4 linked regions of the Homo sapiens genome follow. The protein of the gene in region 2 interacts with the protein of the main gene of each other region in a pairwise test. Each region holds a gene or a part of one and is shown on either strand. Other genes may lie near its edges.

Region 1 (2,425 bases), on a different chromosome or scaffold from region 2:
GAAATATAGCACAAAAATAGTTTGATTTAGTCACAGTATCTGGAGGAATGAATGCACAGTATCAGGAGACTTATTTAAATCCTTACTGTGTTTATTCAGTCAATTGGGGTAACTATTATAATGCAAGAATTAAAACTTCTTTATTAACATGAGAAGAATAAAAGTACTAAGTATAAACATTGACGGGTTCATTTATATCAAAATTATAAACATTTATGAAAGTTTTTGGCACTGCAAATAGTGGTTTTCAAATTTAATATATTGTTTTTGTAATGTTTTCATAATTATTATTTAAGTGAAAATTCTTTCTTTTCTTTTAGAAATTTCTGTCCATCATTTCACCATCCTCATGGATTGGTGTGTTTCGTAACAGCAGTCATCATCCATGGGTGACAATGAATGGTTTGGCTTTCAAACATGAGTAAGTTGTTTTGTATGGCGCTATATAACAATATATATATAAAGGATAAATTCAGAAGAATAATATGAATAAATCTATGTGGAATCATAGAGATGAAGAAAGATGTGGAAAGTTAGTGAAATGCTGACATAAATATTTTACAATAGACCATAGTAGTCCATATATTTCAACCGCTCATTGGTCAGCTAGTAACCTTCTTGATTATCAGGTGTCCAATCTTTGGCTTCTGTGGGCCACATTGGAAGAAGAAGAGTCTTGGGCCACACATAAAATACACTAACACTAACGATAGCTGACGAGCAAAAAAAAGAAAAAAAAAATCACAGAATGTTTTAAGAAAGTTTACGTATATGTATTGGGCCGCATTTGAAGCTGTCCTGGGTCACATGCGGCCCGTGGGCAGCGAGTTGGACAAGCTCGAGCTGGACTATCAGGGAATTGCAGTGCTTGTTTTTATTAAAAAGCCACACTTACTTTTTTTCTTAAGAATATCCTCAAAGCACAAGAGTAGTGCTGTTGGCATATTGCTATAATTTTGTTATTAGTAGTTATTGTTGTCAATCTCTTATTGTGCCTAATTTATAAATTAAATTTTATCACAGTTATGAATGTGTAGAGAAAACATAATCTCTCTATAGGTTCTGCACTATCTGCCGTTTCAGGCATCCACTGGAATCTTGAAACATATCCCTCGTGGATGAAGGGGGACTACTCTGTTGAGTGTTCAGAATAATGACTCTTACTAATATTATGAAAAATTTAATTACCCTTTTCCATGAAATTATTTTCTTACAGTACATGGAAAATGCTTTCGTCTCATGAATCATTTGCTTAAAATGTAACAGAATATGGATTTTTCTCCATTACAGGATAAAAGACTCAGATAATGCTGAACTTAACTGTGCAGTGCTACAAGTAAATCGACTTAAATCAGCCCAGTGTGGATCTTCAATAATATATCATTGTAAGCATAAGCTTTAGAGGTAAAGCGTTTGCATTTGCAGTGCATCAGATAAATTGTATATTTCTTAAAATAGAAATATATTATGATTGCATAAATCTTAAAATGAATTATGTTATTTGCTCTAATAAGAAAATTCTAAATCAATTATTGAAACAGGATACACACAATTACTAAAGTACAGACATCCTAGCATTTGTGTCGGGCTCATTTTGCTCAACATGGTATTTGTGGTTTTCAGCCTTTCTAAAAGTTGCATGTTATGTGAGTCAGCTTATAGGAAGTACCAAGAACAGTCAAACCCATGGAGACAGAAAGTAGAATAGTGGTTGCCAATGTCTGAGGGAGGTTGAAATAGGAGATGACCTCTAACTGATAGAACGTTACTTTGTGTCGTGATGAAAACTTTCTAAATTTCAGTAGTGGTGATGGTTGTAACTCTGCGAATATACTAAACATCATTGATTTTTAATCATTTTAAGTGCATGAAATGTATGCTTTGTACACGACACTTCAATAAAGCTATCCAGAAAAAAAAAAAAAGCCTCTCCTGGGATTATTTGTGACTGCATTTATTCTCTAAAGTAATTTTTAAAGATTAGCTTCTTTATAATATTGACTTTTCTAATCAATATAAAGTGTTTCCTTCAATGTACTGTGTTATCTTTAATTTCTCTCTATTGTATTTTGTATTTTGGGGGATTGAAGTCATACAGAAATGTAGGTATTTTACATTTATGCTTTTGTAAATGGCATCCTGATTCTAAAATTCCCTTTAGTAATTTTTGTTGTTATAAATAGAAATACAACTGATGTCTGCATTTTGATTTTATATCTACTTATTCCACTGATTTTATATATGTAAATCTATTATGTCAACTATTGATTTATTTCTGGGTGTTCTATATAACGAGCAATTTTATCTGCACATGATCACACTTTTATTTTTTTAATCTATATGCTATAACGTAGTTTTATTTTCATTTATTTTCACTGGCTAGGGTTTTATACCCATAGTTGAATAGAAGGTACAATCAAAGTTC
Region 2 (3,500 bases):
CTACAAAAAAATTTTTAAATAGCCAGGCGTGATAGCAAGCACCTGCAGTCCCAGCAACTCAGGAAACTGAGACAGGAGAACCACTTGAACCCAGGAGGTCAAGGCTGCATGATGGCACCAGTGCACTCGAGCCTGGGTGACAGAGCATGGCTCTGTCTCTAAAAAAACAATAAAATAAAAATTATTCTGGCTGATTAAATATTACTAAATTTTTTTAACATTCCACTAAATCAATGATAAATTTAAACCTGTTACATACACTACAGGTAAATTTTCTCATTTTAACTCATGAAATGATTGACATTTAACAATATTTATATCATAACCACCCACAGTGGCTAAAAGTTCACTACCTATATAACAATCCAATTAGAGGTTAAGAACAAAGTTTCTGGACCCGGACTGTCTAGGTTCAAATCACACTCTGCCATTAAACAACTGTGAAACCTTAGGCAAGTTATAATCTCTCTGGACTCAGTTTCATCTCTAAAATGGAAGTAACAGTACTTATCTTACATGTTGTTTGGAGGATTCAATGACTTAATATATATGAAATGGTTTGAACAACACTTGGCATATAATAAGCACTATACAAGTGTTAGATGCTGCATTATTTGGTTCAAAATTTTTAACAAAGACAAGCTAACACCACCTCATGCTTTAAAAAGAATGCTCATTCAAGAGACTGTTTATTGAAGATATTATTTATAATCAAAAACTTTCTACTTTTACAAAAACTAGAATTGCATTAAAATATACAACGCACAATCTCACATACCTGTTTGGAATACAAGTTCTTTCCCTCCTACACCTGCTGCCTCTAGGTTAATGAATGCACGAATCAAGCTAGCCCAGGGGTGCTGAGTAATGAAACCATGACTGGCCTTAAAGAGAAGGAAAGAAAACAAATATTTGTTAAACAATCTTAAATTATCAGTCTTGATTTTGCTTAAACACAGAGAGACTACTTTGATGAGGTAAGGAATATGAAAACAAAATAATCGCTCTTCAAAGGCAGTATCCAAAGACATCTTCTGCTTCTTTTCCTATGCATAATGGCCATGCACATCAGGTTCGGAAAGTCACCTATCACAGAAGGCAGCCTGGTGACCATCAGCGGTGCCAAACAACATCCCTGGTAAGTACAAGGCTGTGCAAAAGAAAAGGCAAAGAGGGCCAGGCACGGTGGCTCACACCTGTAATCCCAAAACTTTGGGAGGCCATGGTGGGAAGATCACCCGAGCTCAGGAGTTCGAGACCAGCCTGGGCAACATAGCGAGACTCCCTCTTTTTTTGTTTGCTCATTTTTGAAACAGAGCCTGTGGCCCAGGCTGGAGTGCAATGGCTCGATCTCGGATCACCGCAATCTCCACGTTCCAGGTTCAAACGATTCTCCTGCCTCAACCTCCCGAATAGCTGGGATTACAGGCACCCACCACCACGCCTGGCTAATTTTTGTAATTTTAGTAGAGACGGGGTTTCACCATGTTGGCCAGGCTGGTCTCAAACTCCTGACCTCGTGATCTGCCTGCCTCGGCCTCCCAAAGTGCTGGGATTATAGGCATGAGCCAGCGTGCCTGGCCCCCTTCTCTTTTTAAAAAGAAAGAAAAAAAAGAGAACAGGAGAAGAGACGATCCATATGGCTGGGCATTTATTTGTGCCTGTCTCAAAACATCTCTGAAACTTCAATGTCAAAGAAAACCTGAGGAGAGTAATTATGCCAGCGAGAGCCCTTCTCTCAATCAAATCCTGCCACAATAATCTGCTAAGTGGAGTTTTCCAAATATTAAACATCTCTACATAAGTGGTTGTGAATTTGTTAAAGTACTGCTCATAAAGTATTTTTCTGCATATTATTTTATACTACCCACAGGAGTCATAAAAAATGCATTTACTATTTAGTAAATAATATTTAGCTATTATTATTAATCTCATCCTTATTCAAGCCTGATATTTAAAACAGTAAAATCTCACTTGCAAGACATTTTCCTCAGCACCATTAAAGAGAAATATGACAGCATGATGCAAGGCTTCTGAAGATGTTGACAAGACGCGAAGGACTTCCAGCATCACTGAGCAGCTAACTGCATCATCACTGGCACCTTCAAATCAGAAAAACAAATTTGCTGCTCAGATTTTAAAATGTTTACAATATGACCCATTAGGACTAGGAATGGAGCTTTCTCCTCAGAGAAGCATCACAATAGCTGCATGACCAGAAGCATAGCTCTGTCATCATCAGGTGACAATCACACCCACCAGCAGTAAGTTCCATGAAGGGATCTTTGTCTGGTTTGCTCACTGACTTACTCTCAATGCCTACTACCATGCCTGACCCACCAGAGTCACTCAATTAGTGTCTGCTAAATGAAGTAACCTGAGGGGACCTAAAGTCATACTGGAAACTGGTATTCTCAGCAAACCAAGGCAATCTGTTCTATTCTTTACCCGTATTCCACATCCTCTGTAATAGTCTCACTTCTGGTGCTCACAGCTTCCTGCATCATCTCCCACTGCACCCACTCCTTTCTTGCTTGTTTTCCTGCCAAAATCATAAAAGCTGCACAGAGAGGTCACTTTGGATGGTGTAACATTCCTTTAAGGCTTCTCCAAGGGGATTATGTGATGGAAAACTAAAAAGAAGATACCTAATCTAGTAAGTCACAGGAAAGGAGACTAATGACCTAAGTAGTATCCTAGGTCCCAGAACACACACTCAGTTGAATCTCTGAACCTCTTCTTGATTCAGAAATTTTGTATGTTAATTAAAAGTAACTATAAAGATGACTTAACTGTCTTGCTTTTTTAAAGCATTGTAAGAGACAATTAAAGGAATTGATTGGATATTTGATGATACCAAGGAATTACTGTTAGGTTTTTTTAGGTGAGGCAATTGGTGGTATCAAAAAGGGCCCTTATCTGCCAGCAACACAGAGTGAAATACTTTTAGAGAGGAACTGATATAGCTAAGATCTGCTTCAAAATAATCAAGAAGTTGGGAGGGTAGTGGTAGGAAAGAAACAAGATCAGACTGCTGAAGCTGGGAGATAAGTACACTGGGGTTCATTAAACAATTCTGCTTTTGAATATATTTGAAACTTTCCATATCAGAAAACTTAAAGAGTAATCAAAGTAAATAAGCACTAACGTAACTCAGGCAGTAACATTTCTGGGTTTACACATTTGAAGCAGGGTGCCAAAGAGTTTGGCGTGGATTTGAGAGCAAGAAAGATTTGGAAGTAAATTTGAGCTCTGTCACTTTACTCCACTATTTCCTGGTTGAAAGAGCAAGCTAATGATACCTACCTCACAGGTTTAAGAGTCACACAAGATAATGCCCAGTGCCTAGCACCTGGTAGGTATTCAATGTTCATTTTTCCCTCTCTTTGCAAATCTGAGGAAGGCTCTGTAGCTAGCTAAAATTAAAATGCTTGTTTGGGCTCTGTTAAATTCCAGACCCCATTCCTACTTAAGAAGAAATTACCTATTAACCATACTTG
Region 3 (3,500 bases), on a different chromosome or scaffold from region 2:
TCTGACTGCATCATATCCCTTATCCCACTTAATACTCTTTAATGGTTTTCCTTTGCTCTAAAATTAGAGGAAAAGTTCTTAGCACGGTTTATAAGCCATCGCCACCCCCCATTCCCATATCAATTGCTATCAATTCCAGGCCCTACACACCACAGGGCCTTTGCAAGTGCCATTTGCTGTCTCTGGAAAACACACACATCTCTCCTCTTTTGCCTCTCTCTCTACCTCCTACTCAAACCTCAGCTCTCATCTCAGATGTCACTTTCTTACATAGACCAGTCTGTCTAGGTCAGGGTTTTGTTGTTGTTGTTCTAGTCTCTCAATTCCCTTTCTTTCTACACGCTTAACTCACTTTGTAATGAAAAGATTATTACTTGATCAGTTTGGGTGTGCCTTCCCCAGAAGTCTCTAAGCTCTATGGAAGCTGAGCTGTCTACTTTCACATATCATTGTATCCCCAACACATAGCACAATGCTCAGCTCAGAACAGGCACTCAAATCTGTGAAAAGGAGGAGAGAGGAAAGAAACTTTCTTTTTTTTTTTTTTTTTTTGTCTGAGACAGAGTCTTGCTCTGTTGCCCAGGCTGGAGTGCAGTGGTGCAATCTCGGCTCACTGCAAGCTCCGCCTCCCGGGTTCACGCCATTCTCCTGCCTCAGCCTCCCAAGTAGCTGGGACTACAGGTGCCCGCCACCACACCTGGATAATTATTTGTATTTTTAGTAGAGATGGGGTTTCACTGTGTTAGTCAGTATGGTCTCCATCTCCTGACCTCATGATCCACCCACCTCGGCCTCCCAAAGTGCTGGGATTACAGGCATGAGCTACCATGCCTGGCCTCTCTCTCTCTTTTTTTTTTTTTTTTTTTGAGATAGATGGAGTCTCACTCTGTTGCCCAGACTGGAGTGCAATGGCGCAATCTTGGCTCACTGCAACCTCTGCCTCCTGGGTTCAAGCGATTCTCCTGCCTCAGCCTCCTGAGTAGCTGGGATTACAGGCACCCACCACCATGCCCAGCTAATTTTTGTATATTTAGTAGAGGCGGGGTTTCACCATGTCGGTCAGGCTGGTCTTGAACTCCTGACCTCAGGTGATCCACCTCCCTCGGCCTCCCGAAGTGCTGGGATTACAGGCGTGAGCCACCGCGCCCGGCCAAAAAAATTTTTTCAAGTGGTCCAGGGTCACACTCATTAGTGTGATAAATGTTTAACAACCGGCTCTATGAAGAAAAAAAACCCTGATCTCCACTGTTTGCCAATTCCTATGGTGTAAATGCTCCCACCATGGTGAATTTCAAGCTGCCAGCATGACATTACTGAATGTGAAGTTGGATAGACACGTGCAGCAGGCTCAGAGTCAATAGAAGCCAAGCTGGCTCCCACACACCACCAGTTTGTGGCAACCTCAGGACAAAGATTCAGAAAGTCCACCATGTTTTTTTGTTTTTTGTTTTTTGTTTTTTGAGACGGAGCCTGGCTCTGTCCCCCAGACAGTTAGTGCAGTGTTGTGATCTCCGCTCACTGCAAGCTCCGCCTCCCGAGTTCACGCCATTCTCCTGCCTCAGCCTCCCGAGTAGCTGGGACTACAGGCGCCCGCCACCACGCCCTCCTAATTTTTTTGTATGTTTAGTAGAGACGGGGTTTCACCACGTTGGCCAGGATGGTCTTGAACTCCTGACCTCGTGATCCGCCCACCTCGGCCTCCCAAAGTGCTGGGATTACAGGCGTGAGCAACCGCGCCCAGCCCCCACCATGTTTTTAAATGACACCAACTTTCGACTCAATCCTATCTTGGACTAAAGGCCAAAGTAAAGGCACCTGCAGAAAATGTTGCTACAGAGAGGCAGAGGGAGACGGAGAGGGAGAGGGAGAGATCTGCAGATGGTTCAGAACAGGAAGATGAAGAAGGAAAGGGAGACCTGTGACCTGGGAAGACAGCTATCTCCCAAACGGAGGTGGAAAGGCTGCTTAACAGCTGGCTAGCCTCTAATCCTTACATTAATAAGGGCCACTGCCAAACTAAATGTTTAGGACGTTGTTACAAGCAAGTCAACGTCTGCATGAAATGCTGGTTATATCCTCTGACCTTTCTAGCAATTTATCCTAATAGCTCAGAAAAGCAAAACAGGTATCTCCAACCCCAAAATAAAGAAGTTATAAGATCATAAAAATGTTAGAAGAAAACATAGGATTTCCCCCCAGTCTTCCAGGAATCTTCCAAGCCTTAAAGCTAACATAAGAAATCATAAAAAAGAAGATTAATTCATACAACTCTAACCAAACCATACGTTTCTACATAACAAAAATATCATGTACAAAATTTAAAAAACCAAACAGCAAACTCGAGGAAAATGGTTACAAGTCATCCAGAAGGGTTAATTTACATCATACATAAAGTGTACCTATAAATACATAAGAAAATAATGCTTCTCACAGCATATACACACACATAAAGGCAAAGGAAATGAAGAGACTGTTCAAAGAACAGGAAATATGGATGGCTCAAAAACTTTCAAAAAGATGTTTAACTTCCTTCATAACAAGAGAAATGCAAGTCACAACCACCACCAAATACAATTTTTTGCACATCAAACTAGAAAATATGTAAAGATTTGATAATCCCCTGGGTCAGGGAGGGTGTAGGGAACAGAACCACACATATTATTAGTATAATTGTGCATAGCTAAGATTTCTACAGAAAACACTCTGACAGTATTAACATAAAAATGCAGCCTACTTTCACCCTCCCACTTCTAAAAATTTCTTACACGTGTGCAAATGTCTGTGCATGCCAAGATTTCGTGATATATTGTGAATATAACAGCAAAGACTGGAGACAAACTTAATGCTTCCTCGGTAAGTGATTAGTTAAATAAATGGCAGTCCAGTCTGACAATGGAATACTATGCAGACATAAAAAAGAATGAGTATCTCTATGTACTGATGTATTCATCTCCAGCATAAGTGAAAAAACAGTGTTTCGGATACGCTAGTGTTTCTGAGACAAAATATGTAAATGAAAGTAGAACATTTCTGGAAGGGGATGTGAGAAACTGGTAACCATGGTTGCTTCTGAAGAGGGAAACTGGGGGCAGAGACAGAAAGAAATGTTACTTTTATGCTATGCTTTCTGTACAATGTACATGTATTACCTACTATAGTCAATTTTTAAAAATAGATATGCATGAAGATATCCACTGTTGTTGCATATACTAGACAAAAGCCACCACTGGGATGACCTCATGGTAGTCAGTTCAGTATTTTATTATTTTTTTTTGAGACGGAGTCTCGCTCTGTTGCTCAGGCTGGAGTGCAGTGGAGTGATCTCGGCTCACCGCAACCTCCGCCTCCCAGGTTCAAGCGATTCTCCTACCTCAGCCTCCCGAGTAGCTGGGAATACAGACGTAAACCACCATGCCCGGCTAATTTTTGTATTTTTAGTAGAGATGGGGTTTCACTATGTTGGCCAGGCTGGTCTGGAACTCCTGACCTCGTGATCCGCC
Region 4 (3,500 bases), on a different chromosome or scaffold from region 2:
AAAAAAAAAAGTATTAATGATAAGATTCCTTTCAGCAAAGAGCTCCTCTTATACCTTAAAGATATGATTCAGTTGGTCAACTTTTAGTTCATATAGAACTTTTCATGTATGGTCTTGTTATTCAAAATTAATCACACCTGTATGATGCTACAGGAAACTCCTAGATACAATGTGTGTGGGAAGAGTATGGGAAGCTCCCCTCTCCAGGCCTCTGTCTACATTCAGTGTCCTAATGGATTTTCAACCTTTTGGTCAAAACACACTCCTAAAAAAACAAACAAAAAAAAAAAAGAAAAGAAAAAACACATTCCTAGAAAAGGATCTTGGATTAATTTCTTACAGGCCCTATCAAAAAGCACAGTCCCTCCTAGTAGCATTTATTTTACTTTTAATGTTGGAAAGCCTTTTTCTACTACCAAATATCATGCCTCGGTAAAGAGACAAGGAAAGCATTGTTGGAGTGAAGGCTCTTCTCCGTATTGGGTTGGCCGATGATAAGGTGGGGGTCAGGAGGCAAGTCAGAGATGAGCAGGAAGCAGTCCCCCCCAGATAGTGCCTTTGGTCTCGGTATGGCTGTTTGACCCAATTTCAGCAAGAAACATTAAGGACAGGACTGTATGGAAAATTAAGAGTAGTCATGAGGAAGCAAGGTCACACGTGGGTACTTCTTTGGTGTCACTGCTGGAGCCCTTCTATGATATCAGTTTCTTCGAAGGCACAACCATGGCATGATCTACTACATATGTTTGTACCTGATGGCAGTCATCAAAATGCCAGCGCAAGTACACAAGGCAATTCGGAGCCAAAACTGAGTGGGGATGGCTGTGTTATTTACGTGCACTAAACACAGAAATGAGAACAAGGAGTTCTAATCTCCAATCTATTGCTGACTTACTTATTGGGAACAGTCACTTACACATTTTATGGGTCAGTTTTCCTTGACACATAAAGGTATTTCAAAGGTTACTAGTAAACAACCCCAGCACACTTTCCAAACAGTCAAAGCTGTATGACTTTCCCCCCTTAGAGGATGGAGCATGGGCCAACTCCACATTCTTCACTACCTAGCACCTTGCCATCATGGAAGGTATACGTAAATACGTTTGTTGTTGATGAACCTGAGTTCTGGGTCATTCTTAGCTTTAGAAGTTTCCTGCAATAAAGAAAAATTAGGAAAGCCAGTTGCCAAGTTCTAATATTATATGCTCAGTACATAAGGCACTTTGATTTAACTTTAGCTTCTTCTTCCTAGAGCCCCCACTGGTCAGAGTAAATCGCAAAGAAACTTTTCCAGGGGTTACAGCTCTCTTCTGCAAAGCTCATGGCTTTTACCCCCCAGAAATTTACATGACATGGATGAAAAACGGGGAAGAAATTGTCCAAGAAATTGATTATGGAGACATTCTTCCCAGTGGGGATGGAACCTATCAGGCGTGGGCATCAATTGAGCTTGATCCTCAGAGCAGCAACCTTTACTCCTGTCATGTGGAGCACTGCGGTGTCCACATGGTTCTTCAGGTCCCCCAGGGTAAGGACGGGGATCGTGGCTGTCTAGGGAGAGAGCCTGGAGAAAGGGGTGAGCAGGAAACCATGCTCGCTGCCAGGGAGGGGAGGATAGATCACTGCCTCACTCAGTGTGCCTTAGAATGGGTCTTTTAAATAAGTGGTTCTCACACTTTTTGGAACCAGGACGCCTTCATACTATTAAAAAATTATTGAGGACCCCAGAGAGCTTTTGCTGATGTGGGTTATATCTATTGCTATTTACTACATTACAAATTAAAAATTTAAAAATTAAACACGAATGGGTGCAGTGGCTCATGCCTGTAATCCCAGCACTTTGGGAGGCTGAGGCAGGTGGATCACTTGAGGTCAGGAGTTCGAGACCAGCCTGGCCAACATGGTGAAACCCCATCTCTACTAAAAATACAAAAATTAGCCAGGCATGGTGGCGCATGCCTGTAATCCCAGCTCCTGGAGGCTGAGGCAGGAGAATCGCTTGAACCTGGGAGGTGGAGGTTGCAGTGAGCCGAGATCGCACCACTACACTCCAGCCTGTGCGAAGGGAGCAAGACTCCCTCTCAAAAAAACAAAAAAACAAAAAACAAAAAAACACAACCCAGGCGCAGTGGCTCACTCCTGTAATGCCAGTACTTTGGGAGGCTGACGCGAGTGAACTGCTTGAGCCCAGGAGTTCAAGACCAGCCTGGGCAACATACTGAGATCTCATCTCTACAAAAAACACAACAATTAGCTGGGCATGATGGCATGCGCCTGTAGTCCCAGCTACTGAGGAGGCTAAGGTGGGAGGATCGCTTGAGCCCAGGAGGTTGAGGCTGCAGTGAGCTATAATGGCACCACTGCACTTCCACCTGGACGACAGAGTGAGACGCTGTCTCAAAAAAAAAAAAAAAATTAAACACAAGAAAACACAAGCAGATATTCCATTAGTGGTCAGATTGATGAGTGAGAAGCAACAGTAAGGAAAATGGTGTTGGGTTTCCTGATGATCACAGGGACAAAAGTCCCAGAAAGTTAACACAGAAGGGAAAGGGGACTTGTGGATTTTTTCTCATTTGCTTGCTTTCAGAATCAGAAACTATCCCTCTTGTGATGAAAGCTGTCTCTGGGTCCATTGTCCTTGTCATTGTGCTGGCTGGAGTTGGTGTTCTAGTCTGGAGAAGAAGGCCCCGAGGTGAGAGGCACATGGAAGGGATCCAGGGGGCTGCAGACTCTCCTGCATCTCTCCAGTTTTATTTTCTGCACCTGCTGCTCCCTCCTCCATTCAGAAATGGCTTGGCTCTCAGGCTGGGATCACAGAAGGACCTGGGACAACCCTCCCACCATGTAGGGGACACAAAGCATGGATAAAGCTTACAGGGAGAGTGGTCTCTTTTCATAGGTGATGCCTGACATCAACAAACTAGTACATCTGTCCAGGGGAACTGTCCCCCTAGAAGTTGGGTCAGAGAAGATATGGGGATCTTGATTTGTCTTTTTCCAAACCATCTTTTTATTATTAATTACTATTGACTTCTGGGGCAGTGTCCTTTGTTTCAAGACTTCAGTCAGTTTTCCCATTTTGACCACCATTCTTTCATCCCAAGCATATGAAAGTCCTTTTCCTTGTAAATTCATTATTCAAAACATTAAATATGTAAGAGTAGATACCTTCAGGGAATGGGACTTAGAGTAAGGAAAAGGGGAGGAGAAGTAGGAGATATATAGGCTCTTGATAATGTGGAATAACATAAATTCATTCAGTAAGTATACATTAATGACCTACTGTGCTCCAGGCACTGTACTGGTTGCTGGGATATAACAATGAACAAGACAGATACGATCCCTGTTTTCATAGAGCTTACAATAGAGCCTGGTAAGGTTATCTCCTGGCTCTGGCTTCACTAATTGCTCAAATTGATCACAGGATAGTACCGATGAGACCATGCTTTGAACCCAAAGTGGACCAGAAGTTTGGTTTTCCTTCATAGACATAGACC

What was found.
Region 1: the proteins of ERMP1 (region 2) and KLRC1 interact in binary tests that used the Homo sapiens proteins (3 or more experiments, as listed by UniProt).
Region 3: the proteins of ERMP1 (region 2) and SLC22A23 interact in binary tests that used the Homo sapiens proteins (3 or more experiments, as listed by UniProt).
Region 4: the proteins of ERMP1 (region 2) and MR1 interact in binary tests that used the Homo sapiens proteins (3 or more experiments, as listed by UniProt).

The regions. Positions count from the first base shown.
Region 1 is NC_000012.12:10,445,528-10,447,952, reverse strand, and holds the end of KLRC1 (NKG2-A/NKG2-B type II integral membrane protein), read left to right. Parts: intron 1-320; coding exon 321-421; intron 422-1,290; coding exon 1,291-1,402; 3' UTR 1,403-1,925; downstream 1,926-2,425. UniProt on the Homo sapiens protein: Immune inhibitory receptor involved in self-nonself discrimination.
Region 2 is NC_000009.12:5,823,118-5,826,617, forward strand, and holds part of ERMP1 (endoplasmic reticulum metallopeptidase 1), read right to left. Parts: intron 2,103-3,500; coding exon 1,975-2,102; intron 885-1,974; coding exon 779-884; intron 1-778. UniProt on the Homo sapiens protein: Within the ovary, required for the organization of somatic cells and oocytes into discrete follicular structures.
Region 3 is NC_000006.12:3,447,051-3,450,550, forward strand, and holds part of SLC22A23 (solute carrier family 22 member 23), read right to left. Parts: intron 1-3,500.
Region 4 is NC_000001.11:181,050,983-181,054,482, forward strand, and holds part of MR1 (major histocompatibility complex class I-related protein 1 isoform 1 precursor), read left to right. Parts: intron 1-1,252; coding exon 1,253-1,528; intron 1,529-2,590; coding exon 2,591-2,695; intron 2,696-3,500. UniProt on the Homo sapiens protein: Antigen-presenting molecule specialized in displaying microbial pyrimidine-based metabolites to alpha-beta T cell receptors (TCR) on innate-type mucosal-associated invariant T (MAIT) cells.